Linked DNA regions of Homo sapiens. The protein of the gene in region 2 purifies or fractionates together with the protein of the main gene of each other region. This does not show direct contact. Each region holds a gene or a part of one and is shown on either strand. Other genes may lie near its edges.

Evidence for each region.
Region 1: the proteins of NEXN (region 2) and PPP1R9A purify together in Homo sapiens (affinity purification with mass spectrometry; 2 studies listed by BioGRID and IntAct, with this or other methods). This does not show direct contact.
Region 3: the proteins of NEXN (region 2) and CPVL purify together in Homo sapiens (affinity purification with mass spectrometry; 3 studies listed by BioGRID and IntAct, with this or other methods). This does not show direct contact.
Region 4: the proteins of NEXN (region 2) and MYO1B purify together in Homo sapiens (affinity purification with mass spectrometry; 2 studies listed by BioGRID and IntAct, with this or other methods). This does not show direct contact.

What each region holds. Positions count from the first base shown.
Region 1 is NC_000007.14:95,288,549-95,296,076, forward strand, and holds part of PPP1R9A (neurabin-1), read left to right. Parts: coding exon 1-170; intron 171-1,542; coding exon 1,543-1,755; 3' UTR 1,756-7,528. UniProt on the Homo sapiens protein: Binds to actin filaments (F-actin) and shows cross-linking activity. Binds along the sides of the F-actin. May be involved in neurite formation. Inhibits protein phosphatase 1-alpha activity.
Region 2 is NC_000001.11:77,926,624-77,934,151, forward strand, and holds part of NEXN (nexilin), read left to right. Parts: intron 1-92; coding exon 93-269; intron 270-2,692; coding exon 2,693-2,881; intron 2,882-6,658; coding exon 6,659-6,856; intron 6,857-7,528. UniProt on the Homo sapiens protein: Involved in regulating cell migration through association with the actin cytoskeleton. Has an essential role in the maintenance of Z line and sarcomere integrity.
Region 3 is NC_000007.14:28,996,374-29,003,901, reverse strand, and holds part of CPVL (probable serine carboxypeptidase CPVL isoform b precursor), read left to right. Parts: intron 1-2,517; exon of another isoform or gene 2,518-2,573; intron 2,574-2,846; exon of another isoform or gene 2,847-2,933; intron 2,934-7,528. UniProt on the Homo sapiens protein: May be involved in the digestion of phagocytosed particles in the lysosome, participation in an inflammatory protease cascade, and trimming of peptides for antigen presentation.
Region 4 is NC_000002.12:191,247,952-191,255,479, reverse strand, and holds part of MYO1B (unconventional myosin-Ib), read right to left. Parts: exon of another isoform or gene 7,523-7,528; coding exon of another isoform or gene 7,472-7,522; intron 1-7,471. UniProt on the Homo sapiens protein: Motor protein that may participate in process critical to neuronal development and function such as cell migration, neurite outgrowth and vesicular transport.

The DNA.
Region 1 (7,528 bases), on a different chromosome or scaffold from region 2:
GACAGTCTCCCAAACACAGTCAGTGTCAGAATCGGGCCGTTCAGGAATGGAGTGTGCAGCAGGTTTCTCACTGGTTAATGAGCCTAAATCTGGAGCAGTATGTATCTGAATTCAGTGCCCAAAACATCACTGGAGAACAGCTCCTGCAGTTGGATGGAAATAAACTTAAGGTAAAGAATTATATGTCTGTCTTAGGTTACCAGGTATAATTTGTATTACTCATATCACCTAAAATGTTTTCATTAGGTAAGAGCATTCTGCATATCTGAGAGGTAATTCTCATCAATATTCAGCAGAAAGGATGTTGAATTCTTTCTGAGTAGTAAATGAAGTCTCAGAAAGTCCATCAGGGGTTCCAAATCAAATGGTAGGCTGCTGATTAGGAGAGTGAGGGACCCACTCCATTGCTTCCACCTGGCAACACATGGTCCATATATTAACTCTCCTTACATCTGATGTAGTATGAGTTTTAATAATGGCCACTGTGGACTTTTTCATCACATTAGAATTAAGACCCAGATCCACGAGTCTTCTTTTCCTTGTTCATTTCTCCTTCACCTCCACTCTTCCTTACACACCACTCCCAAACTGGGATGATGTTCTCCCCAGAAGTTTTTTCCCCAAATATGTACACACATCTTCCCTCCCCTCCATGGCACTTTCATTTCCACTTGTCCAGTCCATCTCTCTTAGAGACCAAGGTGGCATCCATCCCTTTGGGAAAGGGAAAAAGGTGCTTACAGCCAACTCCATGTACCCCCAAGCCCCACCCCCGCCTCAGCCCCCTGCTGGGCTGACGGGCAGACGAGTATCTCTTGACAATCTTGAAAAGGTTAGAGATCAATCAATAGCTTGTGAATATGAAGGCCTCATTGACAAGGCTGTCCCTGTTGGGGAGATAGATAGATGCATCCTGCTGTTGATTCTGAAGGTCACGAAACATTTAAAGTACATAAGCAACTCCCCTTATTCTGAATTCTAAGTTCATCGAGCAACCTCCTCATTATAATCAACTTCCTTTATAGGTCTGCCTACAGGGAAAGAATGGCTAGTCATGCTGACACGAGCATTCTGGCCCCAAAGACATTTTTGGTTCTCATTGTAATGAAAACATTGGCAGAAAGGAAGCCATTTCAATTCTTCTTGCCCTTCTTGGAGCCCTCTGTGACAGCAGGTGCTCACTCCTATGCTTTGAAAATATTGATGAGTTTAGCAATACCTTTACCCGTAAATGCCTACAGCCCAAAGGTTGGAGAAGTAGAATTGTGCCCTTTTTCCATTCATTCACCCATTAATTACTCATTTGGAAAGCATTTAATTAATGAGCTTTAGGGTATACTTTGCAAGGGACTTCAAAGAACAAAAGAAAAAATAAAGGGTAGCCCCCAGTGTGTTGGTTTTTAGCAAATGTAACTAGTTCTTCCTCTGTTCTTACCTCTTCAATGTTTGAATTAGTTTACGAACTTGGATATATGGTATGTTAACACCATCAGAGGGCTCATTGGTTTTCAAATTCAGTTTGTGTGTGTGTTTCTTTCTTAGGCTCTTGGAATGACAGCATCCCAGGACCGAGCAGTGGTCAAAAAGAAACTCAAGGAAATGAAGATGTCTCTAGAGAAGGCTCGGAAGGCCCAAGAGAAAATGGAAAAACAAAGAGAAAAGCTAAGGAGAAAGGAGCAAGAGCAAATGCAGAGGAAGTCCAAAAAGACAGAAAAGATGACGTCAACTACAGCCGAGGGTGCTGGTGAGCAGTAACACATACCCTCTTACAGATGATGGAGATGCTCCAAGAGAAGTCCCCACCTCTTCCTGCCCTGCTCTCCTCCAGAGGATGAAAAAGAAACTAAATGATAAGGGTAATGCGGCTCTAGGCCGGCTGAGGAACTGTGTGTTGAATAACTGCATTTTCTGCAATAGAATGCACTCTTAATTTTAACTACTAAAATAATCCCAAGCCACCTTTGGTTCATTAACAAACCAGAGATTTCATTTAAGTAGCTGTGTTTTGCTCTTCTCTAACTTACCAACATCTTGTGTTGTGTTGGGTGTGTTTTGTCACTTGGAGAACTAGTGTGACCCCACCCAAGAGCATGACACACCCTGGTGTTGTTAATGGAGCGCCGTGAATTTTCAGTGTGGGATCCTGAAATGGCAATTGCACATGTCTGCATGGCAGAGAGCACCCTGCCATGAGATCTGAGACCAGTACTTAACTTCTAGGACTGCAACACCTACTCCAATGTGTGGGAAAGATTTGCTCTTAATTCTCAGTCTGGACAGTGAGACCACCCCGCTGTGGAAACATGGGTGCTCTGCTCTGTAGTTACCTACTAAGGGAAAAGGCAAGCAAGTCATTCTGCTTGCTAGGCATCAAAAAGAAAGAAAATAAATTATAGCTATTTGTTAACCACTGAAAAAAGCAAAAGCCTTAAGAATGTGGATGTGGGTATTACCTTGGGGTTCTGAGGGTAATATTTATCCTCTAGATACGGCTGAACAAGAAAGAAAAAAATCAGACATTAATGCAGCCATGGGATATTGGGATCTGTTGACCTTGCTACTGCTGTGTGTTCAGCATTTCAGCAACACTGGCAAACACAACACAGTTCCTCTTCCCCCTACCTAACCCAAGAAATTGAACAGGAAATTGATTTTTAAGGAAACCACCATTTTCAGGTTTCCTCTCCTGGGGAACATTCTGGCTGGTCTTCAGCCTGCCTATGTCACAATCAGGAACTCATCACATATTTTCTACTCAAGATTTCCCAGGTGGGCTCAGTTAGTATTTTAACAAATGTACTTTTAAGAAAAATAGAAATACCAGTTAGAGGAAACTGTCAGTTAACATTTTAGAGAGATTTTGAATGGTTTTTCCGAACCATTCCTTTCCATACTTCAAAGATTCTCAATTTTACAGAAAAAGTTTGTTTAAGGCAGTGCATAGGTATACTTTAGTAGTGGAGGAACTTATACTAATTTTAAGCCAGCATTAAGGATTTCCATGTTTCACCAAACTAAGTCAAGTGCAGGAGACTGGGGCAGAAGAAGGAGAAAATAAACTCGTTTTGAGAAATTTCATGTGATGAGGGTTTTTTGTTTTTTATGCTCATGTATCTGGTTCTCTTTGCTGCGTTGACTCTAAAAATGAGGTTATCCACTTTCCAAAGGACAAGTTTCAGAATAAGACTTGAGGCCACATGAATTCTTGGACAGTATTTTACTTCTTTTACTTTATGGGAATCTCTGCTCTGTTCCCAGCATCTCGTATCTTCCACTAGAAGTATTCCATATTTAGAGCCTCGGCAAGGCTTTTGAGTGTAACAGATTAAGGGAACTCCCTTGTAGCCCCATCTTGTATTTTAATAACAGTGTGATTTTTTTTTATCTGAAAATCTGAATTCAGAAATTATCTAAACTGGACATTTTTAATTCTGTTTTACCCCCAAGGCCTGTTTTCTTTTCATTGCCAGAGTATTGTCGGTTATGCGTCAGCTCTTTTGTCATTAGGTACAGACCCTTCATTCAATCCTCAGAAACGTTGACATGAAGTAACATTGTGTTTTACAGTTATCAAAGTCACCATTATGTTTTTCTGTCTGTCTTCATTAGGGGTATGATAATGAAACTGCCGTATTGGATACTCTATTAATGTCTTGAGATGTCTGGTGCTTTGTTATTTTTTCACATCATGAGAAATAAGAAGCCACTATTAATGAGTGATACAATTTGGCAAAACTTTTCAAATACTAAAACACTAAATTAGTAAAAATCTGGTAATATTAGTGCTTGCTATTGTAAATTTTTGCCATTTTTGCTTATCTTTGGGAAAAAAGTGACCTGGATCACACTGGAAGTTTCACTGTATTCAAGAGTAGAAATAGAAGGATGATTATCTTAAGTTATGTTTACACTTTGGTAATATTTGAAAATGGATGTATATACTGGAAATGTCTGTAAGTGTCTTGTTTTTGCACCTAATTTATGATCTATTATATTGCATTTTCTTAAATATCTTAGAAGTATTTTTCTTTATAACTTTGTATATTGAATGTTTAGATAAATGTCCAACTGACAATGTTATAAATCAAATTCTTATTCCTAAAATCATTTAGTATTATAAGTATTTTGATTTTTTAAGTTAAATTATAGTAATTTTAGGCCGAAGTGAGTTATTTTAACATTACCACTTAAAACGGATGAAATTGTAAAAGTCATTTGGTTTGATTGCCCCACAAAGCATAAGATGTAAACTGATTAAGGGTATGAAAGCAAAGTGAAAGACCTCAGATCTTGTGCACATTTTGTTTTCCTATTATTTCTTTTATTGACTGTAGTGCATGATACCTAATCAAGGCTCCAATGTCTTGCACAATTCCTACTTTAATGCTAGTGGTTTTCAGTGTCCTTACAATTTAACACAGAATTGTTATTTCATCAACCTTAAAAACTGCAGTTTTTATTATCAGAAAATGAACAAAAAGGGAATATCTGGTTGCTATGAACTGATTCCCTAAAGGAGAGCTCAGTATGATTCTAACAATAGCCAAAAGTGTTTTGGGGTATAGGTTATGCTTTGTTGGGAGGGAATGTGTGGTGAGGAGGCCAAGCTGCAGACAGAAAGCATTGTATGAGCTGTATCTGGGTCAGGGTTTCCCATTAAAGGATGTTAGTTTTATAACAGATTACTTTGTTTAAGACCATCTCCCTTCAAGTAACTCACAGTTTATGTAATACTAATCTCATTCTTTTTTTACCTGAATCAGGAATTTTCTGCAGAATGTTAAGTTAGGGAAGAAACCTCATTTCATCCATTCTAACACTCCTGATGAAGTCCCCCTTTAGTTTCATGACAATAAAGCTGTTCTGTGGCTATCATCCTTTAGCTGGGATTGACAATTGATTTCACACCCTCAACATCACAAGCTTTTTTTAACCCACAGCAGTTCATGATTGCAGTATGATAGGTACTAAAGCCAAACTCAGCTTTCAACTGGCACAAAATGGGACTGTCACCTTTTGCTCCATTGTTGTTGGAAACAAAGTGGCAAGAGGGAAAATGAGGAACCAGATTTACCTTTGCCACTATCTGTGACCCTGTAATCATCACTAGCCTGAAATCTTAAAATATCCCAGTCCCAAGCTACAAAAATGGTCACAGGTGGTTTGATCTAGCACCTCGGCCGTTAGAGTTTGTGCTGAAGACAAATTTGTCTGGGTTCATTGTGCACCAGAATTAGCATGTGCTTGAAAATTGCATTTTATAAAAGGGAAATGAAAATTTGCATTTATATAGATACTCTGATTCATGTTTAAGTGTTAAAGGTTATGCAGACTAAACTTCAAGAGGAGATCCAGTGTTTAACAATAGTGTTCTAGAGGATTCTAAAGGAAGCTGCCCCAGCAGCCCTGAGAGAACCATCTATACTTTGGATATGTTGTAGCCCCATCATTACACTGAGATATTTCCATTTGAGTAACTAAAGGTACTCCTGACAGAGCTGGAGATGAGGGGCATTTTGGTGGGCAGTGGTCACTAGGGTTCACGTCACCTACTTAATGCAAAGACCTTAGTGGTCTCAGAATGAAAAGGTAAAATGGAAGAGAAAAGCACAGTCCTTTCCTGTCTTTTCAAATTTACTTTTTATTAAGGATGTACCTGTGCACTATTCTAAAGCTAAGCATTTAAGGATAAAGTCCAGAAATAAAATGTCCATATTTTCTTTTCTTTTCTTTTTTTTTTTTTTTTTCTGTCATCTGTCACCCAGACTGGACTGCAGTGGTGCCATCATGTCTTACTGCAGCCTCAAACTCCTGGGCTCAAGTGGTCCTCCTGCTTCAGCTTCCCAAGTAGCTGGGACTACAGGCATGTGCCACCACCCCCAGCCAAAACATCCATATTTTCTATTAGAATGGTTTACATTATGATGGGGGATGGGGAGCTGGGGGAGGGCTGTACATTCCCAAAAGAAAGTAGTGTTATAGGAAATCCAAATGCGCTTCAGTGATTCACTCCTGAAAAGCAGCCTGGGTATGTTGGCAGATTTTGTTTGCATTTGTCTTGCGTATTTAAAGTCTCAGGAAATCTAGTCTTGGTCCAAAACACTGGAGAAAAAAATAACACCAGACAAAACACATTTGAGTAACTTGAAGTAGCAGCATAGAATAGGCCCAACTAAGAAGTTGGAGGGGCAAAGAGAAAGCCGACAGAATCAGCTTCTCCTGGAAAGTGAAAGCATCAAGTTCTATTTATGGTAGACAGAGGGTCCTTATTTGCTTGTCCGTGGTGTCTATGTGGGCCTATTGAGGGAATGGTAGTTACTTGAAGGTTCACATATGTAAGCGTGTGGACCCAGCACAGTCTGTGACCTGATTCCAGATCCTCAAGAGTGGAGAAGGAAAGAAATATGATGATTTCCTATGCTTGACCCTAACCCAACCCCAAAACTGCTAGGGATTCAACAGTGAGTAAGATGTATGCAATAAGAGAACAGATAACTTCTCAACAATGTGCATGCCGTTTGTGTAGATGTTCAGAACTACATATGTGTGAATATCACTCCCACCTTACACACGCACACACACTGCAATCACATGGCATTAAAAAATATATTGTGTATGGAACTTGGCGAGGTCAGTCAGGACCTGGAGCTGTAATCATAGCCTTATTGCCACTTCTTGCGTTGTGTATACATTGAATGGCTCATAGATTTTAAGAGATTTTTTTATTGTAAGTATTTCTACTAAATGCACTTATCCTTCTATATGTTTATATATTTTGGTAAAATTGATTTATCAGATACTTGGTATTTTAGTAAGAAAATTTCCTCAAATATTTGGCTAATGCTTTGATGTCAAGATTGCATATTGCTGAGTTGGAGCTCAGAAGAAATGTATGCAGCTAAAAATTGCACTGTGTGTTCTTGTGAATTTGCTCACAATTCTAAAATGACATAATTGGTGGCTGTGATGCTTACAGTCACTGCCTACTGGCTCTCTTATGATGAATGTTGCCATCATATGATCATTTATTTACTTTTTGTGCAAGCAATGGCATTTTGGTTGTTGCCAAAAACAACACAAGTGGTTGGGAGTGTATGTTGTTGGAAGGTGTACACTTCTGTTTCTTTCAGCTGTATTATTTATACACCCAGGTTTTCTGTTAAGGATGTAATCATTCATTCAAGAAAGAACAATTGGCAAGAAATAATTAAATTACCTTAAAAAGAATTAAGAGGCACTCCAGCCAGATAACACCTCCCAACAACATGAAATTTAGTTAGTGCTTAGTGAAATTCCTTAAATATATATGTATATGTTTTCTTCAACATTATTTAATATAACTACTGCTTTTATATTTTTTAATGGTGTTGCAACCACTTGTACACCTGCTACACCTTACTGACAAAACTGGGCAGCTGAAAATAAAAGAGAATAAATTCTATTCCACTGTAAGAAGTTGATTTCTTTTCAGCTTTCTTTGTATATCAGTAAAGAACACGAATTGTTTGAAAATAATTTTAAGTCTGAT
Region 2 (7,528 bases):
TTGTTTGTTTTCTAAGAAACAAATCAAGGCAGTTTAAGTTAGCAGCATTTTCCTTTATGACTAAAAGGTGGGTTTTCATAACGTTTTCTTAGGATGATGAAATAGAAAGTGAAGCAAAAAAAGAATCACTTTCTCCCGGAAAATTGAAACTAACTTTTGAAGAACTGGAGCGACAAAGACAAGAAAACCGAAAGAAGCAAGCTGAAGAGGAAGCAAGAAAACGTTTAGAAGAAGAGAAGCGTGCTTTTGAAGAAGCAAGGCGGCAAATGGTAAATCTACATATTTAAACCTTACAATTAATATTAATGAAGTTAGCCGACTTAAGATAAGGTTTACTACTACAAATTCAAAGAGATTTTACATATAGAAGGGCTGATTTTCTAATTGTATTCATATTTCATATATAAAATACATCTAGGCTAGGCACGGTGGCTCATGCTGTAATCCCAGCACTTTGGGAGGCCAAGGTGGGTAGATCACCTGAGGTCAGGAGTTTGAAACCAGCCTGGCCAACACTGTGAAATCCCTGTAATCCCAGCTGCTTGGGAGGCTAAGGCACGAGAATCACTTGAACTTAGGCGATGGAGGTTGCAGTGAGCTGAGATCACGCCATTGCACTCCAGCCTGGGTAACAGAATGAGACTGTCTCAAAAAAAAAAATCCATACTGTTTTCCAGTTTTCACTCTGGGGCATTTTACCCAATATGCTTTAAATTTTTATTTTTATACATTGTTATTAATGTATAAATATGCAAAATAATTACTCAATGAACCTGGTTTCCTTCATCTGTTAGTTCAATCTGCAAAGTACTTAATGACATGGGTGCGGGACTGATTATAAGTGTAAACTTGTCCTCAGCAGTCCAGTTTTTCAACTGTTTGAACATATCAAAATAACAGTTTACGGTGGAATATGCAGTTTGTCCTATTAAGTGTATGTGTGTGCATATTTGTGTGCATGCCTCTGTGTGTGTGTGTCTGTGTGTGTGTGTGTGTGTGTGTGTGTGTGTAGTGTGGTTAAGAGCATGGATTGTGGGGCCAGATTGTCTAGATTCAGATATCAGCCATTTACTAACTGTGTAACCATGGACAACTGTTTTAATCTCTCGCTGTGTTAATTAATTAAATCTCTCTTAGTTTCTTCATTTTTAAAATGGTAAAAATGAAAGCGCCTACTTCTTTTTTTTTTTAACTTCCACAATGACTTGGATTTTTTTTCAATGCCTATTTCTTAAATGGTTAAACAAGTTAATATCTAGGAAGCACTTAAAATGGTGTTTGTTACATATACTAAGTTCTTTGAAAATGTTAATTATTACTATGGTATTAATAGATTTATCAACAGAAAGTAAAACTGAAATAAGAAAACACTGATTCCAAACCTCGTTTTAAGATTTAAAAATGCGCCAGGCATGGTGGCCATGCCTGTAATCTCAGCACTTTGGAAGGCTGAGGCAGGCAGATCCCTTGAGCCCAGGAGTTTGAGACCAGCCTGAGCAACATGTGGAAACCATGTCTCTACAAAAACAAATACAAAAATTAGCCAGGTGTGGTGGCACAGACCTGTAGTCCAAGCTCCCCGGGTGCTGAGGCGAGAGGATTGCTTGAGCCCGGGAAATCAAGGCTACGGCGAACTATGAATGAGCCACTGGACTCCAGCCTGGGTGACAGAGTGAGACCCTGTCTCAAAAAAAAAAAAAAAGGATCTAAAAATGGAATATTTGTAATTTTAAAGTTACAGAACTTTCTTGATCAGCTTTCTTGAATGATGTTCTAAGAATTATATATATAAAAATTTAATTTTCTAGACATTTATTTGAAAATGTTATTACTCGGGTATAGCTGCATAATATCTGCACATTTTAGATATTTCTGGTGGTCAACTTAATAAAGAAATAGTATTGTTAAATAAATAATACATTTCAATTGATATTATAGTAAATTTAATAATAAACCTTTAATGATAAAATCATAAAGCTGGAATTTTACATAAAATAGTTCTAGATAATAATCTTTTATCTGATTAGTATAAGGTACCATAGTTCACAGTAAAAAAAAAAATACAAAAATTACAAAATGAGAACATTATTTTACTACCAAAGAGATTCTGTGTAGATATACTTGAACCCCAATTATAGTACACACATACGCATTTTATATTTGTTCTGGGAAAGTTAATACTCAACAGTAACCCCTCACTGCAGCCTCAACCTACTGGGCTCAAGGGATCCTCCCACCTCAGCTTCTCGAGTAGCTGGGACTACAGGCACACACCACCACACTGGCTATAATGTGTTTTTTGGTTTTTAGTAGAGACGAAGTCTTGCTATGTTGCCCAGGCTGGTCTTGAACTCCTGGGTTCAAGTGATCCTCCTGCCTCCTAAAGTTCTGGAATTACAGGCGTGAGCCGCCACAACACCTGGCTAAAAATGTTTTAATATTCAATTTTATCTATAGAAATTTGGCTTATTTGAGAAGTTTTATTTAACCTGAGTACATCTTTATATGGAATTTCTCCAAATTTGAATATTTTATCATAGAAGACATTAAAAAGGAAGGGGATTTAGGTCAAGTATATTAAGGGCATTGAAACTCCTGTGTGATAGTGGCTAATTCTGTGCCTTTTGATTAATAATTCATTCCTTTTTCTGATGAACCTCAATTCTTAGTAATGAATTGTTTATTTGGTTAGGTAAATGAAGATGAGGAAAACCAAGACACAGCAAAAATTTTTAAAGGGTACCGCCCTGGTAAACTCAAACTCAGTTTTGAAGAAATGGAAAGGCAAAGAAGAGAAGATGAAAAAAGGAAAGCAGAAGAAGAAGCCAGAAGGAGAATAGAGGAAGAAAAGAAGGCGTTTGCTGAAGCAAGGAGAAATATGGTAAGACAGAAGCTAACTGGAGAATGCTATTAGAATTCACCTTTGAGAATATGTTAATAGAATCATTAGACTTTAGAGAATACCCTATTATTTCTGGAAACTGTGCCAAGAGTAGAAATGGCAAATATGTTTTAAAGTCTCCCATGGAATAACACCAGTTGGTTGAAGGTATTTGCTTCAATTTAGTGTTCAGAAGATTCTGCTTTAAATTGCCATGCTTGGCACAAAGGATGGAATATTATCTCCCTTCTCTGGGAAGGCATGTTTTCCAGAACTAAGTATCCAAGGAAGAAGAAGAAGTAGGGAGTTTCCTCCCTCAACTTTTCTTTCTTCCTCTCCATTCTTTCGCCACCTCCTTCCCATACTCCCTTTCTCCCTCCTTCATTCCTTTATTTCCTTCCTTTCCTTCTTTCAGTTTTCATCCCACCTACTATATATTAAATGACCTGAGTCATTTAATCAGAATTATTTCTCTCTTCAAAATGCTCACTCATCACTCCTGGAAATTGATACCTAACTTAACTGTCACAAGGTTATGACTGTACTTCCTATACCAGTTTTATGTTTGTACAATGTACAGTTATCTGACAAACAATTTTGAAGCAATTTGAGACTAGAGCACTGCATCTCCTTCTTGAAACACTGTAATTAGCTTTGGTGATATCGTAACCTGGTTTTCTTCCTCTGTATGGGTGAGCATCACACACATATGTCCAAGTGTTTATTTGGCTTTATTGCCCACACAGATACTCAAATCAGAAACGTGGAAGCCTGAAACACTTCCATCTTCTTATTCATGCCTGATGTCCAACCAGTCACTAAGTCTCGTTTATTCTACCTCCTAAATCACTATGAAATCTGTCAGTTTTCCCCCCATTTTCACCGCCACTACTATAATCCAAGTTACTGTTACAACTTGCCTGGGGCCAACTCCTCATTAACTTGCTTTCTTACCTGTAACCTATTCTTTCCTGTAAGGCCAGGAGTGATCTTTAAAAAGAAAGAAATTTTGATTGTGTTTTGTTACTGTTTTGCTTAATATTTCCCCACTTTTCTTAAGCAAAAATCCAAAAACTTCTAAAACAAATTTCTTTATAGTCTTGCTCTTGTATATTGCTCTCGTTTCATTTCTTGATTCTTCCTGAATCTGCTCTTTGTTCCAAATATGCTGAATTTGTTTGTATTTCTTCAAAGTGAGACTCAGCCTTCACACTGTCTGAAAGATGTCCCTCACTCCTTTCCCTATGCTCTGCTAACTCCAATTCATAACTTTCCATTTCCTCTGGAAAGCCTTTCCTGATAATAAACACCTTCCATGAATTCTTACAGCATTTAGTACTCTTCTATCATAGCGCTAATCCTGTATTGTTACCACTTATGGCTGTCTTTTCCACTCCATGAGGCCAAGACTGTTCATCAAACATGTGGCACAATGCTTAGCGTAGCAGACCTCCAATAAATGTTGATGGAACAAGTGATATTGAAATCTTACGTGCAGTAGGTAATCCCTGATTCATAAATGGTTTCTACATAGAAGTCCTACAGACGTTGTGAATGCACTTAATTTTTGGAGAATAAGCAGGTTTAGAAGCGGTAGAAGAAGCCGGGCGCGGTGGCTCACGCCTGTAATCCCAGCACTTTGGGAGGCCGAGGCGGGCGGATCACGAGGTCAGGAGATCGAGACCATCCTGGCTAACATGTTGAAACCCCGTCTCTACTAAAAATACAAAAAAAAAAAAAAAAAAAAAAAAAAAAAAAAATTAGCCGGGCGTGTTGGCGGGCACCTGTAGTCCCAGCTACTCAGAGGCTGAGGCAGGAGAATCGCATGAACCTGGGAGGCGGAGCTTGCAGTGAGCCAAGATCTCGCCACTGCACTCCAGCCTGGGGGACAGAGTGAGACTCCGTCTCAAAAAAAAAAAAAAAAAAAAAAAAAAAAAGAAGCGGTAGAAGAGAAGTAACTGTGAAGATTACTAGACCTAGTCCTTGGGGCAGATTTGTAGGCCAATACTGCCTTTTTACCATGATTCACTAGCGGAAAAAATGCAGGCGAGAAAACTGCATTAAAACAAAACCAAGTTTCCTAAAGACATTTCTAAAGAGAAGAGAGAAAACCTTCCTCTTACATTTATATTGTTTTCTTATCCACAAATAAGTATTGTAATTTATCCAGGAATAAGTATTGTAATTTCATACCATAGCTTAGTTCATGCATATGTAAAATTTAAAAATTTCAGGCAATCTTTGAATTGTAAACCACTTAAACATTGTTTCTGAGTTGAAATAGTTCTGTGGTAAAGCCTGGATTACCTTGATAAAACTTGGAGCAAATGAATAATACCCCTTGCCTCTCTCATTCCCCTGTGTGTATTTCAACCACAGAGTCACAGTTCAGGCCAGAGGGTTATGTTATACCGCGCCCGGCCTATAATCTTTTGTTTTTTTTGAGATGGAGTCTCGCTGTCACCCAGGCTGGAGTACAATGGTGCAATCTCGGCTCACTGCAACTTCCACCTCCTGGGTTCACGTGATTCTCCTGCCTCAGCCTCCCCAGTAGCTGGGATTACAGGCGCCCACCACCACACCTGGCTAATTTTTGTATTTTTAGTAGAGACGGGGTTTCACCATGTTAGTCAGGCTGGTCTCGAACTCCTGACCTCATGATCCACCTGCCTTGGCCTCCCAAAGTGCTGGGATTACAGGCATGAGCCACTGTGCCCGGCCTATAATCTTATTAGAAATATTTTGAAGTTTGAATCCCAGCTTTGCCACATAGTATTTGTGTTGACTTTAGACAATTACTTTTCAGTGCCTCAGTTTCTTTCTCTGTAAAATGAGGATATTAGTAACTACTTCATAGGGTCATAGGATTAAATAAATTAATACATTTTACATGTATTAATACACTTTACGTGCTTATAACTGCACTTGGCAGCTCCAAGTATTAACTATTATTATTTCTTTAAAATTAGCCAGACAGCAAATAAACAATAAACTCATAGCACTAAGAATGATTTTTGCCTGATTATGAAGAGATCATGATGGGTTATCTAATTCATTCAGACAAAATCATGATTAACTTAAATGCTTTAATTACCAACCTGGGGAGTCGTTTCAATCCAATTAAAAAATGTTCTCAAATTAGGAAATCTTAATGTCTAATTTAAAGTACTCATGGTATGAATAAATTATTTCTTTGTCTTCACTGTAATGGAGAATAGATGGTTACCATTTCCTTCATAACCACAAAATACCTCGGTCTTACATTTTCTAATAATTCTTCCCTTTTATTTATTTATTTTTGAACACTGTGTTGAGACTTCCTTGTTTACTGTTAAGTCCCCTTGTTTTTTGTTCAATGTGAAACCTATTTAAGAAATCTGGCCGGGTGCGTGGCTCACGCCTGTAATCCCAGCACTTTGGGAGGCCAAGGCAGACGGATCACCTGTCGGGAGTTCGAGACCAGCCTGACCAACATGGAGAAACCCCGTCTCTACTAAAAATACAAAATTAGCCGGGCGTGGTGGCGCATGCCTGTAATCCCAGCTACTTGGGAGGCTGAGGCAGGAGAATCGCTTGAATCTGGGAGGCAGAGGTTGTAGTGAGCTGAGATCACATCATTGCACTCCAGCCTGGGCAATAAGAGTGAAACTCCATCTCAAAAAACAAAAACAAAAACTAAAAACAAACAAAAAAAAGAAATCCCAGTTTCTTCAAGAAATAGTCCCTTTTTAGTATGTGTAATTCTGGCCAGAGTGATAAAATAATTATTTTAAATAGGTAGTAGATGATGACTCCCCAGAGATGTATAAGACAATCTCTCAAGAATTTCTTACACCGGGAAAACTGGAAATTAATTTTGAAGAATTATTAAAACAAAAAATGGAAGAAGAAAAACGACGAACAGAGGAGGAACGGAAGCATAAGCTAGAAATGGAGAAACAAGAATTTGAACAACTGAGACAGGAAATGGGAGAGGTAAGATTTTAAGAAATATCTATATTCCCCATATTTATTAAGCTAAATATTTTACTTATATCACCTTATAATAACTTTGTATTATTATTCACCTTTAGGATAGTTGACATAGTATTATGAGGTGCTTACATGGTACAGGCGTCTGCACAATTATGTGTACTTTCTAGTCTGCTTTAACTACTCCTTCCTTGCTAGTTTAATAAAAAAGTATCTAGGTTTGCAAGTGACTGAGCTATTACTATTTATTTATATTTGTAGTTCATAAATATGCATATATTCAATACATATATTATATATAGACTATACAGTGCCAGCTTCATGGGCATGCACCTTGTGCACTCACAAGACGCCATGTTCAGAAGGCCTTGCATTTGGGGTTTAATGCTGAGGTTACTGTCTTCAAATCCTTTTTGTGGTGTGAACATGGCTCACTGCAGCCTCAACCTCCCATGCTCAAGTGATCCTCATGTCTCAGCCTTCTGTGTAGCTGAGACTTGGGGTGCACGCAGCACCATGTCTGGCTAATTTTTAATTTTTTTTTTTTTTTTGAGATGGAGTCTTGCTCTGTTGCCCAGGCTGGAGTGCAATGGCACAATCTTGGTTCATTGCAACCTCCACCTCCCAGGTTCAAGCAATTCTCCTGCCTCAGCCTCCCGAGTAACTGGGATTACA
Region 3 (7,528 bases), on a different chromosome or scaffold from region 2:
TCAAATCAGTGGCAGCATTAGATTCTTATAGGAGGGGAACCCTATTGTGAACTGCGCATGTGAGGGATCTAGTTGTGCGCTTCTCATGAGAATCTAATGCCTGATGATCTGAAGTGGAACAGTGTCATCCCCAAACCATCCCCCACTCCCCAACACTGTGCATGGAAAAACCGTCTCCCACAAAATTGGTCCCTGGTGTCAGAAAGGTTGGGGACTGCTGCCTTACAACACTTTAACTCACTTTACACCCTTTTTGTGCAAGTACTGTCTTTTGAAAAACTTCTACATAGTTCAAACTCCAGAAGACATTATTAATTATTGATACTCCTTACTTGTGTTCACATATGTAAATTCTCAGTTGCTGTTCATTCTCCTCTGCATTTTCATGTTTCCATTACGGATAATTTTCCTTCTGTCTGAAGAACAGTCTTTCGTACTTCTTTTAGTGCAGGTCTGCTGACAAAAACCTTTTCCAATTTTTTGTTTCCTTGAAAATATCTTTACAAGGTCTTCATTTCTATACAAGTTCTAGGTTGGCAGATATTTTATTTAAGAACTTTCAAGATATTATTTCACTGTCTTCCAGCTTTCATTGTTTCTGTTGAATAGTCAGTTTTCTTGCTGCTTTGAAGGTACTGAAAGTACTGTTTCCTTTTCTGTGACAGCTTTTAAGATTTTCTCTGTCTTTGCTTTTAGCAAAATGCTATTCTCTCTGTGTGTGTGTGTGTGTGTGTGTGTGTGTGTGTGCACATACACATACTATAGTGTAATATACTATTACTAATATACTATTATGTGTACTATGATGTGGTTAGTTTGCTTTGTGTTTATTCTATCTAGGATTCATAGAGCTTCTCAAAACTGGCTTGGTAACTTTTGTCAATTTTGGAAATTTTTCAGTCAGTATCTCTGAATGTTACTATTTGTTTCTTTTGCCCCATTTCTTCCTTATCATTTTATCCTAAAATTCCAGTTAAACATAAGTTAAATGTTTCATGGTTTCATGTCGTCTTCTTCTTCTTTTTTTTTTTTTTTGAATTTTCATACCTTTATTCTCCATGCTTCAGTCTGGATATCCTCTACTGACCTAACTTCCAGTTCATATAGTGTTTCTTCTGCATGCCTAATCTATTGCTAAAACATCGATCGAGTTCTTAATTTCAATGAACAATGAATGAGTAACTTTTTAGTTAAAGAACTTCCATTTGATTCTCTTGTATATATTCTAATTATCTTGTGAATTATTTTTCTATACCTAACATCTTGCATATTTTGTTCACAGTTACTTTAAAATGTGTACCTGGTAACTCTAATATCTGGATCATTTGTGGTCTCTGTTATCTTTTTTTCTCCTTAAATTTTAGTCATTGCTCTTGTTCTTTGTCATGCCTATTAAATTTTATTAAATGTTGAAGAAAATGTACAAAAAATATATGAAGAAAAATGTTATTTTTCTTCCAAAAGGATTTAATTTTTTCTAGAAGGCATACAGAGTAGAGGCATATCACCTTGATAAAGTTTGGGATTGAGACGATTGATTCAGTGCTTGATTTCAAGGTTTGTGAGGACTAACCTGTTTCTGGTTTGTTATTACTTCCAAGGCATTGTCTTTCACGGATCTGATGGAAAGCCTGCAGTGCTTACCAGTGCTGTCCCTCCTTGACAGGCTTGCAACTCCAATTTTTTGTTGTTGTTGTTTCTTTTGGGGTTTTCTTTGTTTTTGTTTTTTGGTCTCTCAAGCACCGTAAGACTAATGAGCTTTTCATTCTCTTATCTGCCGCTTTTGACTTGGCGTCTTGGTCAGAGAAGCTTAAAAATTGGTGAATTTCCCAAAGGGAAAAGCAGCACAAAATGTTAGGCTCACTTCCTTGTGATTCCCTTTTCTCTACGATCATGGCCTCTCTCAAGGCTTGGTTGCTCTCTGATACCTTTAAACAGCTTATTTTCTTTTTAATTCAGCTTCTATTGTTTTCTGTGGAATAAGATTGGTTTGGTACATGCTATTGTGTCACAGTCAGAAGTGGAAGTCCTAAATTACAAACAGTATTGTTGCAACTGATTAAGATGGTGTACATAGGAAGCCCCTTGGGGATGTTGTAAAGGAGCACCAAAAGTTTTAACTGCTCTAGAATATGTACCATTATGATGGCTACATGTGGGTCTCCTGAAGCACCTAGAAGCTCCTTTTCTCATTCTATTCAATAACCATTTGCTACACCAGAGGTGTACAGTGGGAGACCTCAAGAATCGTTTCCCTGAGTGCTGTTGAAGCAACTCCCAGCCTTGATCTCTGCTGTTTTTTCATTCTTTCGAAAGTGACTTATTGCATTCTTTGTTAGGAAGTGTCTGCTAACAAGCTTTGGCTTGTTTTTTATTCTCGTTCCCAAGTACCTTTTCAATATATTTTTATTTGAATGCTATTTACGTTATTTCTACTTATAGTTAGTGTCTGAAAGCAAACTAAAAGATAAGATTTAGTAAATGTGGAATGGCATAAAAGTAGTGAAAAGAACTTACATGTAAATCAGAAACCACAACAAGCAGATTCTCTTGAGGGTATGCATCTTTCTATACTGGAAAGCAGAAACAATAAACCAATCCTACATATTCTGCCTGCCAAACTTGCAGCTCCCATGTGGCTCTTTTCTCTTTCCTGGTGAGTAGCACCACCTTTGCAAATCTGCCCATGTCAGAAGCCTGAAATGGGGAGGATTTGTTGGGGATGGGTAGAGAAAGTCTCACTTAACCTTTATATCGGATTAATCACTGATTTTATTGGTTCCATCTTACTACCCTCTTCTCCTTCCCCTTCTCCCCATCCCTCCCATGAGCCCACATCCTCTCACCTGATTTGGTAGTCTCCTAATTTGCCTCCTTGTACCAGTATGACTCCCTTCCAAATTAGCCTTCTCCTTAGACATTAAGTCATTTTTCTACAATGCAAACATAAGCATGTCACTACCCTACTTAAAACCCTCTAGGATATATCCAGAATAGGCAAGTCTATAGAGACAGAAAGCAGATTAATGGTTGCCAGGGGCTGATGGGGAGAGGGGGAGTGGGAAGTGATTACTGATGTATATGGGTTTCCTTTGGGGTGGTGAAAATATTCTGCAACAAGATAGTGTGAATATACTAAATGCTACCGAATCATACGCTTTAAAATGGTTAAAGTGGTAATTTTATGTTAAGTGTATTTTACCACAGTTGCTTTTAAAGCCCGATAGGATAAGGTCCACTCATCCCAGCATGTCACTTGGGGCATCACATGGTCCCACTAGCGTTTGCCTGTTCATCTGTCTCTTCTGTTTCCCTCTATTCCTGCATGAATGGGACGACATACAGACTGCTGCATGCGCCCGCAGCTTCACGGCCCCTGCATTTCCACACAGAATTTCCTTTGTCTGCGGTGATCCCTCTGCTGCACGTGCCCACAGTTTCATGCCCCTGCATTTCCATGCCTCCTGCATTTCCACGCCTCCTGCATTTCCACACACAGTTTCCTCTGTCTGCGGTGATCCCTCCACCCCCACCCCACCCACCCACCACTCTCCGTCCAGTGATCTCCTTCAAGACCCCCAAGAAGCTTCCCCTGACACATCTACATCAACAAGCCCACTGTGAACTTCCCTCTCTTTTCTGTCATCTAAACAGGCACAACTGGGAAACCTTTACTGGCAGGTCTTTGTTTCTAGTTCCAGGGAGAATTATATTGTTTTCTAAAAAATAAAGTGGAATGAAGCTTTAAAGTGTTTGTATAACCCTGTTGAAATTCATGACACATTTGTGACCCCCTGGAACATCTGGAACACATGAAGTTAGAGGCTGCAGCTCTAGTGTGGAGGCACCCAAAATAGACAGTTCTATTCAGGGAGCCCTGAGATTAATCTTGTCACATTTAAATACGTAATTACAGCCCTGACACATTTTGTTACTCACCTCTAAAAGCTGCCAAGTGGTCTGTTATCTTTGATTTGTGAATGGTGAGTGGCTTGATTATAAACAAGAGTGGTTTATTTTTCCACACTCAAAAATATATTTATTTTTGAAGTTAATATCAGTAAAATGCTGTATGTGAATCTGCTTAAGAATATGCTTTGTTTGGGAATTTTGTGGCATGTGAAACAACTTTGTCCCTTAACAAGCTTTCTCTTCCCGCAATATTAATGACACAATTTACAATGCCATTAGGGTCATTACACATGGCAGCTCAGAAATTGGACCAGGGTCAGGTAGGTCACTGAGAGGAAGAGTAAGAACACCTGACCCCTTCAGCGCTCCTTCACCACTTGATAATTATGGACAGGGAAGGTGTGTGTGAGTGCGCATGTGCGTGAGTAAATACCAGGAGAGCGGATACCCAGGAAGTGAGGTCATGAGTAGGTATTAAACAAATTTCTACTTGTATTCATGAGTAGGTGTTAATCAAATTACCTTGATGTAAACAGAGAATTCCCTGGTTTGCCACAGAGTAGAAAAAAATTCTCAACAGTGGTTTTCAACAAGCAGTTGGAACAACAGCATCAGCATTGCTTTGGAATTGTTAGATATGCAAATTCTTAGGCCCTGCCCTGGACCTTCCGAATTGGAAAGTCTGGAGGTGATGCCTCACGATCTCTTTTAATGAGCTCAGGTATTTTTATGCACGTTCAAATTTGAGAGTCATTGTTTTGTTTTTTCGTTTGTTTTTGAGGTGGAGTCTCACTCTGTCGCCCAGGCTGGAGTGCAGTGGTGCCATCTTAGCTCACTGCAACCTCTGCCTCCCAGGTTCAAGTGATTCTCCTGCTTCAGCCTCCCCAGTAGTTGGGATTACAGGCGTGCATCACCATGCCTGGCTAATTTTTTTTTTTTTAATTTTTAGTAGAGGCAGGGTTTCGCCATGTTGGCCAGGCTCTTTCAAACTCCTGACCTCAAATGATCCGCCCACCTCAGCCTCCCAAAGTGTTGGGATTACAGGCATGAGCCACTGCACCCAGCCAAGAACCATTGTTTTAAACAACCTTTTTTAAACCAAGGTTTTTTATGAAAATGTAGGAACACCATGTTCTAGGGTAGTTTAGGTTCATATAAGCATATATACATATATATTCATTTATATTTAGAGATGGGATCTCCTTTTGTTGCCCAGGCTGGAGTGCAGTGGCTCAGTCAGCTCACTGTAGCCTCAAACTCCTGCAATCAAGCGATCCTCCTGATCTCAAGCAATCCTCCTGATATAGGCATTTTGATTCTGGATTTTCAATATAGATAAGTGTTGGAAGAATAACGAAAATGACCAATATTTACTGAAGACCATCCCAGGCCGGGCACTGTGCTAAGTATTCCAGGGACATTATTCCACTAACTCCTCACACAACTCACAACTACCCCACGAGGTAATACTTGTTTCCCAATTGTAAAGTAAAGGAACCTGAGGCTCAGTGAGGTTAAGTTCCTTGCCCAAGGTCACACAACGTGCAGTGCCTCTTGCCATGCTCCTGCACTCTGACTTCTGAGCCCAGGCTGTGAAGCACTGTGCTATCCTTTGTTTGTCCTTTGTTAGCTGCAGCACTGGTTCTGGGGGCAGGATGACCTTTAGCTCTTGGGTATTCAATTTATTGGTGTTCCGGACCATTGCTGCCAAACTCATTTCCAGTTGAAGCAGCTGGGTTTTGTCACACATATGACTTTGTTAAGTGTCCTCAGCTGAGCTGAAGCTGCACAGAAATCACTCATCAGATTCCTGCCAGGGCCAAAGATATGGATGAAAATCTGCAGGAAGAAATGTCTAGCCTGGGATTGCGGGGCGGCAAAAGTTTCCCTCTGGAGTCCTATGAAGGGGTTCTTGTCACACATGTTTACTTTCAGTTTGTGATAAAAAGTGGGCATGCTGGGTTTCCAGTTGCAAGCTTCTACACAAATGGTAGATGGGTTTCACAGTCATTGCAGTGAGGCACAAATGACCATTGATCAACTGCAGCAAAACACAAAAGTTTCACATTTGCATGTGAAAGAGTTAAGTCTGGTCCCACATCTGCAAATGGGATCTGCCTCCCTCACTGTAATATGTGAAATACAAAAATACAGAAAATTATGTTTATATCTGCAATAATTTTTTTCATCAATAAACCTCAGAGGGCTATTGAGAGGTGAATAAAAATGTTCCGTGACTAAGCTGCAAATTTCAGTTCAAAGATAAGGAATGATTGAGTAGAGGGTTTGATTAAAAACACCACACCGGTGTTTGCATCAGAAGTCAGGGTTCTAGCTAGTTATCTCACTTAACAATTGTGTGACTTGGACAAGCCACTGAATAATTCCAAATAGCTCAGTCATCTCAATGCTCATGTGAATGGTGCTCCCTGTAGTTGTTCAGTGCACAGCTTGTATAGCTGCGAGCTGCAAGGTAAATATCATCTAATAGTGTTAATCCTACTTACTGCACGTCAAGGTTGTAAGATGGAGGGTGTTGGGATATAGGGGCAGATTTTCAATATAATAAATGTACTATCCAAATATACTTTTTCTGCCTCAGTTTCCTTCAGATTGAGACAAGTAGAAGAACCCAGCCTCTTAGGAAGGGCCTTGTGAAGGTGACCTTTAATTGCTGATCGTGATTCTGCAGCTAGAAGTTACTGAAAGTGATGTCCTTTTTGCATACGTTTATTCACTTCATGCACTGGTACCTCCTGTCCATTCTCCACATATGGAACGAGACATCTCAGGCCAGGCTGACCTCTCCTGCATGTAACTTCCCAACACTCAGTGTCAGTCCTTGCCCTTTTGGCACTGAATCATGACAGCTTCCCGTTTCCCTCTACTTGGAATATTAGCTGACGCTAGAGGCTTAACGAGTACAGAGACCAGTCCCCTTTTGCTGATTGGATCTCATCATTAGAGATGTTTTAGGAATGCTTTATATCACCCAACAAGGGCTTGGGTTACGTAGGTGTCTGCATTTGTCAGAACTGGTGAGTCTACACTTAAGACTAGCGCATTTCATTGTATCTTAACTTGACTCAAAAGAAGAAAATCTGTAAACACATGTTGAACTCTGATGAATAATGTGATGCTGAAGTGTGTGGGGGAAGTGCACTACATGCCCATTTTACTTTGAGATGTGTCAAAAATATAAGATGGATTAGTGGATGGGTGTGGGATGCATAGAGGCACCCTTATGTGAGAAAGCAAGTAAAGTGAAAGTTCATGACTCAAAATCGTCACTATATGAATTGTTTTCGAATTTGCTATGTTTTAAAATGTTTTATAATCCAATATTAGGAAAAAAAAGAATGTTCTAACTCTATGCTGCTCAAAACATGACTTTCTTTCATTTCAAGTGTCAAGTTTTTTGTTTTGTTTTTTTTTTTTTTGTTTTTTGGTTTTTTTTTTTAAGAGATGGGGTCTCATTCTGTCAACCAGGCTGGAGTGCAGTGCATGTGGCATGATCCTAGCTCACTGCAGACTCCAACTCCTGGGTTCAGGTCATCTTCCTGCCTCAGTCAAGGATGTTTTTGGTTTTTTAATTTTTTTGAGAACCAAAATTTCC
Region 4 (7,528 bases), on a different chromosome or scaffold from region 2:
AACACCAACTCATCCTTCAGGCAGCTGTGTGAATGTTTATTTCCTAAGTCAGGCTCTCCTTGTACCCCAATCTAAATTTCCCTCTCTCCGCCTTTCTGTTTCTCACAGCCCCCTGTCCTTTTCCTTCACAGTATCGATGCTAATCCACGAATACATATTTATCCGTGTCCATTTCCACAATGTCTCTTCCCCTTCACATTCATGAGAGCAGAAACCACATCTGTTTTGTTCAACATTAAAGATTCAGTACAGGATGGGTGTAGTGCCTCATACCTGTAATCCTAACACTTCAAGAGGCTGAGGAGGGAGGATCACTTGAGGCCAGGAGTTCAAGACCAGCCTGGGCAACATAGAAAGACCCCGTCTCCACAAAAAAATGTAAAAAATGAGTGGGGTGTGGAGATGCTGCCTGTAGTCCTAGCTGCTTGGGAGGTGGAGACAGGAGGATCACTTGTGCCCAGGAGTTCGATCCTGCAGTGAGCTATGTTCACACCACTGTACTCCGGCCTGAGCAACAAAGAGAGACCCTGTCTCTAAAACAAAAACAAAAACAAAAACACAGTACCTAGTACGGTGCCTGAAACATACTAGGCACCTAAACATTTGATGAGTTAATAAATGAACACATTAAATAACTAAAAGTCACCCCTTCCTTACTTCTAAAAGTACTGCATATAATTTTTAAATTAGGTCAGGTGTGGTGACTTACACCTGTAATCCCAGCACTTGGGAAACCAAGGCAGGAGAACTGATTGAGGCCAGGAGCCTGGGACCAATGAGACATCACCTCTACAAAAAATTTAAAAATTAGTTGGGCATGGAGGCGCACACCAATAGTCCTAGTTACTTGGGAAGCTGAGGTGGGAGGCTCATTTGAGTCCAGGAGTATGAGGCTGCACCGAGCTACGATCATGCCATTGCATTCCAGCCTATGCAACAGAGCCAGACTTGTCTCTAAAAAAAAAAAAGAGGCCGGGCGCGGTGGCTCACGCCTGTAATCCTAGCACTTTGGGAGGCCAAGGTGGGTGGATCACCTGAGGTCAGGAGTTCGAGATCAGTCTCAACATGGAGAAACCCCATCTCTGCCAAAAATACAAAATTAGCCAGGCGTGGTGGTTGCATGCCTGTAATCCCAGCTACTCGGGAGGCTGAGGCAGGAGAATTGCTTGAACCTGGGAGGTGGAGGTTGCAGTGAGCCAAGATTATGCCACTGCACTCCAGCCTGGGCAGCAAGAGCGAAACTCTGTCTCAAAAAATAAATAAATAAATAAAAATAAAGTGAATTATGACATTTTCAATAAAGGCTAAGTTATTTTATGCTGTATTGGAAAAGCCACCCAACTGCAGGCTCCCACAGCAAACACAGGTTTAGATGTGAACTTGATCAATCAAGAACTATTTATAAACAAATACAAAATCAATCCCTTTCTTGTACACCAGCAACACTAACCAGAAATGTACTAAATCATTCATTCAAAATGACCACAGAAACCATGAAGCACCTTGGCACAAATCTAACAAGCGGTATGAAAGAGTTTTACATACAAAATGATAAAAATTTCATTGAAGGACATAAAAGAACTATTAAAGAAGCTTATGAGGTTTGTGGATGGGAAGCCATTAAACCATAAAGATGTCAATTCTCCCTGAATTTCTATTTAAATGCAACACAATTTCAGTAACACAAAATTAAAGAAAAAAGCCCCACAAGCAACAAGCTTGTTGAACATATGTGCAAGCTAACCTGTGGGGGGAAACAGAGGAGAATGTGATGTGCATGTGATGTGTCAACTGACGCAAATATGGAAAATGGAATTTTGTGGGAATTCCAATAATTTAACCATATGAATGTGTAAGGTTACTTTCAACATTTCATTGTGCTTCAAATATTTTCTTTTTTTTTTTTAAGTTGTGAAACAGTTAAGTTCAGAAGAACAAGCGCAACCTGAGTCTGGGAAAACTGACAGAGAAGACAGGCACAAAGCTGGGCACTGAAAGATGTGCCAGTGTGATAGGGGAGAGGGGCTTCTGGGGGGAAGGAACGATCCAGAACAACAAGGTAAAAGCACAAGACACAGTTGAGAGTGAACCAAGTACGGCTCACATGGAATGCACATTCCCACAGGAAGCCAGGCAGTGACAGAACCTAAAAAGCTACAGTGAAGTGACTATAGCAGTGTTATCTACGAAATGATCCCCCCAAAACGTGGTACAATGGTGACATAAGTTGGGACAAGTGAATACTGTATCTTTCTCTTGGGAATTCACAGTACACAGTCACAAATGAAGGCCAGGAGAAGTCTTTCTGCAAAGAAACTTAACCAGCTATTCTAACATGTACCTGGCCAAGGAACCCTTTTTACAGGAACATTTACCAACTTTATGGGTAGGGTATTTTTTTGTTTTTTGTTTTTTTTTCCAACTTACTAATTTTTTATGGAACAACTCACTTTGGGTAACACTATACTCCAGTAACTCAGCCTTTTAAAGGTCTGAACCAGAATGAGGGCTTGAGGATTTGCAAAGGGCAAAAGATAGGGGAGAACAATAAATCAGACATAGTGACTGACAGGAGGAATGTAAGGGTCACAGAAAATGGGGAAGTAGGTGATGCTCTAGAATCCAAAGTCAAGATGGTGATGAAAAGGCTATTAGCACAAACAGTGAAGTGAAGTCCACAGGGGACCAAGTATTAGGTAAGAGGTAATAAATTTAGATTTCGACAGGTTTGGAGAGACGGATATCTCCCTAGAAAGAAAACTAAGCAAGAGGTTACAACTTGGAGTCAGTTTCTCAGATCCGTCCCCTGTTAAATTTAGGAGCTGAGCAGGTCTCAAGCACAATGAAGGGGTTACAGTGGTGACCTTTAAGACACTTTTCAATAGCAACATTCTGCCATTCCAAAAATTGAAAATTTGAAATAAAAATACCAATATAATCAAGTTCTATCTTTAAAGTGTGAATTGTGTGAATGCAGGATAAAAATAAACAATTCAAGATGAATTTCAGTACATGGATAAGAGGTTTTTAAGAGATCATGTAATTACAGATACTCAAGAGACATCTATGAACCTTTACAAAGCTGACATCAGGAGTCTAACTCTATTTTCCTTCCTGAATGTCACAGAATACCTGCAGAGTACTACGGCAAATAAGCCCTGAACCTGACCAACGTGGCAGTTCATACATTTTTATGAATAGCTCTCAACACTTTGAAAATTTCAGGCAAGCGAGAACTTTTTCATAGATGGCTCACTATATCAGGGGTAGCTCAAAACTGTGATCTACCGATTATGACTAGAAGCAGATAATATGAGGATCACAAAAATAACAAGCCATGCAAATTGGCATAGGCCCAATGTCTATGAAAATTAAGCTTTTCCTTAAAGCATTTAGACTGTGGGTCTAAAATGAATAAAACAGTGACCAATCACTCTGAAGTACTTTTAAGGGAAAAAATGATCAGTTAGGAAGCTAGTATATTTGCAATCTGAACATCACAAATAGCAATTCAGGATCTAATATAAAATGTAAAGCAAAGCAGCAATGATGGAGAGAGAAGGTGTACACTGGAAAATGTTAAGTGGGACCAGCAGGAATCTTGCAATTAAGATTCTTTGTGTATTTTGGGGGAGCTTTTTGTTGTGGTTGCAATGTGAAAATGCTTTCATGTAACCAGTGAAAATTAAGTAGGCAAATGACGTGTAAATGTATTATAATGTCGATAACTAATAATCTGTTCCACTGTCCTTTCAATTCAATTTTCTAAAAAGTCTTTAAAGATATTGCATTCTTTTTTTAAACAAATTTAAAAACCTGTAATGTACAATTCTGAAATACATTACTATATTTTCATTTTAACACAGCGAACTTAAGCCATCTGTGCAATCTTAAAGCATCTTGAGTCCAGGAAGAATTGGACTGAAAGTCCCCGGAAGGCAGAGATTTGGTTTCCTCTTAAGCCTCTCTTAAGCTATCAAGGAAAGACAGGCCCCTTGCATTTTCAGAAACTTATCAGGTGCTTATCTGATAAGCAAAAGAAGAATGTCAATTTTTACTTTTCTGCTATTTATAAAACTGCCTATCTTGGAAGAGTACAAATTTCACCCCAACTCTCTTCCCAAAACCCAGCTCTGCAATGGCATCCACACCGCTTATTCTCACACATCAAAGATCTGAGCGAGCTCCAGGACTGGATGCCCTGTGGCATGCTGCTCGCAGGCAGACTGGAGACCAGAGATCAGACAAACGCCCTGAAACTCCCAGATGACAATCTATTCCTGAAGATAAAGGCATGGCCAGCAAGGGGGTAAGAAAAGGGACTGGCTATTCAGTCTCTCACTAGCAGGCTGAATCTTGTCTCCCTCAGCTGGGGAAGGAGAATGACGCAGGACTGGGAAGCCAAAACACCCAGAAAAGGATAAACTGAGAAGCAGTTCAACCAATTCTCCTAGCTTTGGACCAGCCAAGGACACCTACAGGAATCCTGACTTCAGGTGACAAAGGAAACAAGCCAGGAAGGAGAGGGACAACAGCTGGGCTCTCCCTCTAACTCCTTAAAAAGAACTCCTTAAAAGTGACCAAAGCATCAAAGTACTCACCCAAAGAATCAAAGTTTTTGCCCAAAGCTCCACAGTACTCATTCAAAGCTTCACAGTACACTCTACCTGGTGGCACTTCGTTGTTCTGGAAAGCAAAGGGGTCTTTGAGGCTTGACCTCTGGGCTAGTGACTCAATTCCCTCATCTACAAATACCTCCTACTAAGGGATAGTGATGAGAAGGAAATCAACCTACAGAAAGTACCCAGCATGAGGCCTAGCACAAAGCAAGCACCCAATACTTAATAAACAGTAGCATGAATAATATCATATAACTCAATGTGAATGACTCATTCTTTGGAGATTTGGCATGTCTTGTCCACAAGAGCCTTTTAAAATGCAAATATGCCTGAAGTCTATTAACAGCCTTAGTTGACAGCCACATTGAACACAGGATGAGGAAGGGATGCTGGCAGGTGTGTAGAGAAGAGAGTTGGCGGAGGTACCAAGGACCTGCCATGCACCAGGGAAGACACTGCTATTCAAACCTTCTCGCATAGAATGGTAGTTTATATATCATTTTTTGGACCTCAGTCAGGGTTCTGAACCTGAACGCTTTCACATCATTGGAGATTGGAGGAAATAAAACCTAAGTCAGAGAAGCTGGCACCTGTGTTCAGTTTTCTTCCACTCTCTTGCTTCTGTTTGTTCTCAGCTTTTGTCTCAAAAGCAAGTGTTCCCCTGGTCTTGGTCACTACAGCTGTCATAGCCATTTTCTTCATTTCACCAACATCCACTCTTGGGATGCATCCACCTGCCCTGCTACAACGACCCTGAAAGCACAATGGATTTCCTTTCTTCCTTTTAAAATGGGTCTAATGCATTGTCTTGCATGACCTGTGTGCTTAATAAAATATGAACTGATGAGGAAGAGGCTGACAACTGCAAAGACCTACCAAAGGCTGTAAGAGTGTAATGCTGGGAAGCATCCTTTTTCCTCCTCTATGCTGCTTATGGTAAGTTGGAAGGTGCTCACCTGTTAGAGTTTAGCAAACCATGTGTCTGCCTCTCCTCCAGAGGCAAAAGTCTAAAATAGCCAGTGGAGGAGAATTTCATAGCCTGAGGAGACTAAAGTTACTCTCACCTATACCACAGAACTTGAAGACCCCAAATGGTGTCCTAGCTTGAAATAAATAAACAAGGCAGAACTTCCAGTCTTCAAATTCTTATCTTAGAAACAACAACAACAACAAAAACCTAATATTGACTTTTCCATTTGCCCAGGAGCATTCTGAGGAATCCACAAACAATCCATGATGCCAAGTGTTAAACTCCAGTCTGCTCCTGTACTTGGTGTCAAAGTCTGGTACCTCTTGCCCAGTGCCACTCTCAGTGCCACCCTAAGGACAGATACCACTGCTATTCCCTTTTCATGCAGATGCCTAAACTAGTTCACTTCCCCTGTGGGGAAGGGATGAGCACAAAAATCATGTGGAATGAGTGTTCCCACAGAGCTCAGAAATTTGATGATCTCAGAGGATACTGTAAAGAAAGACCCTTGACACTTCCCTAAGGAAGAATGCCTTCTGTAAAAGGCTACTGCCAGGACAAAAAGCATGTGCTGGGAAAAATCTATGGCCTGCTGCTGCGAGTGTTTCCAATTCTGATGTCCCACTTCCTCTTTATAAGCACATTCCTTCCCTCCTTATTTCTCTTCTTAAAAAGACACTCTGGCATCGGGTCTCAGTTAAGAAGCAAAGTGCAATGTTCTATTAAAGGCTGTAAGATAAAAAGGGCTTAAAATGGATTTCAATAAACATAAAAGCCTTGAGTGCAATATAAGATCTACTCTGTTCTACCACTTTTAAATGTTTCGAAAAAAGAACTTATTTTTAAATGTTGGCAACCTAACTTTTTAAAAGTAAAGTTTCATTCACTTACAGCTTATTCATACAGGCCATAACATACAGCTCTTTAGCAATACAGTTCTAAGAGTTGTAATGTCCTAACCTGGGCTTCCAAACCTATCTCACAGTGGTTTTTGGAAGAATCAACTACAATAATAGACGTGAAAGTAATTTGACATCTGCCAGGGGCTAACCAACTAGATAATCAAACTGTTGTTATTATTAAAATACATCATACCATACAGTATATACCTAAAGAGTATGGACTTTGGGATCCCCAATCGCACTTCCACCACTTAGTAGTTAGCTACACAAGCACAGAGGGTCCTCAATTTACAATGGTTCAACTTAGGATTTTTTTACTCTATAATGGTGCAAAAATGATAGGCATTCAGTGGAAATCATACTTAGAATTTTGAATTGTGATGTTTTCTGGGGCTAGCCACATGTAGTACGATACCCCATCACAATGCTGGGCAGTGGCAGCGAGCCGCAGCTCCCAGTCAGCTACACCATCACAAGGATGAACAACCAATACTCTACAGTGGACTGTGTTACCAGACGATTTTGCCCAACTGTAGGCTAATGTGACTGTTCTGGACACATTTAAGGTTCGGTAGATTAAGTGTATTAAATGCATTTTCAACTTACAATATTTTCAACTTATGATGGGTTTATCAGGACATAACCCCATTGTAAATCTAGGAGCATCTGTACGGTGTAAGGGGCAAGTTACTTAACTCCTCCAGGCCTCAGTTTCCACTGGAAAATGAAGATAACACCCACTTTATCAAGTTGTTGTGATGATGAATATAGTAATGTATGTAAAATTCTTGGCATGTAATGAACACATACTAAATGATAGCTATAATTATTGTTAGGCTATTTAATTAAAATCCAAATGTTCAGCTATTGAAAACAGTAGAAGGGAGGTAGAAGACAATCTTACCCAAAGGAGGACAAATGCTAAAAACATGGATGCTACATGCTGAAGATCCCTTCTTAGCCAAACACCACCCACTCACCTCACTCCCTCTTCTTCCCCATGATGTCAGACGTTCCTCCTTGCTTTGCATAACTGT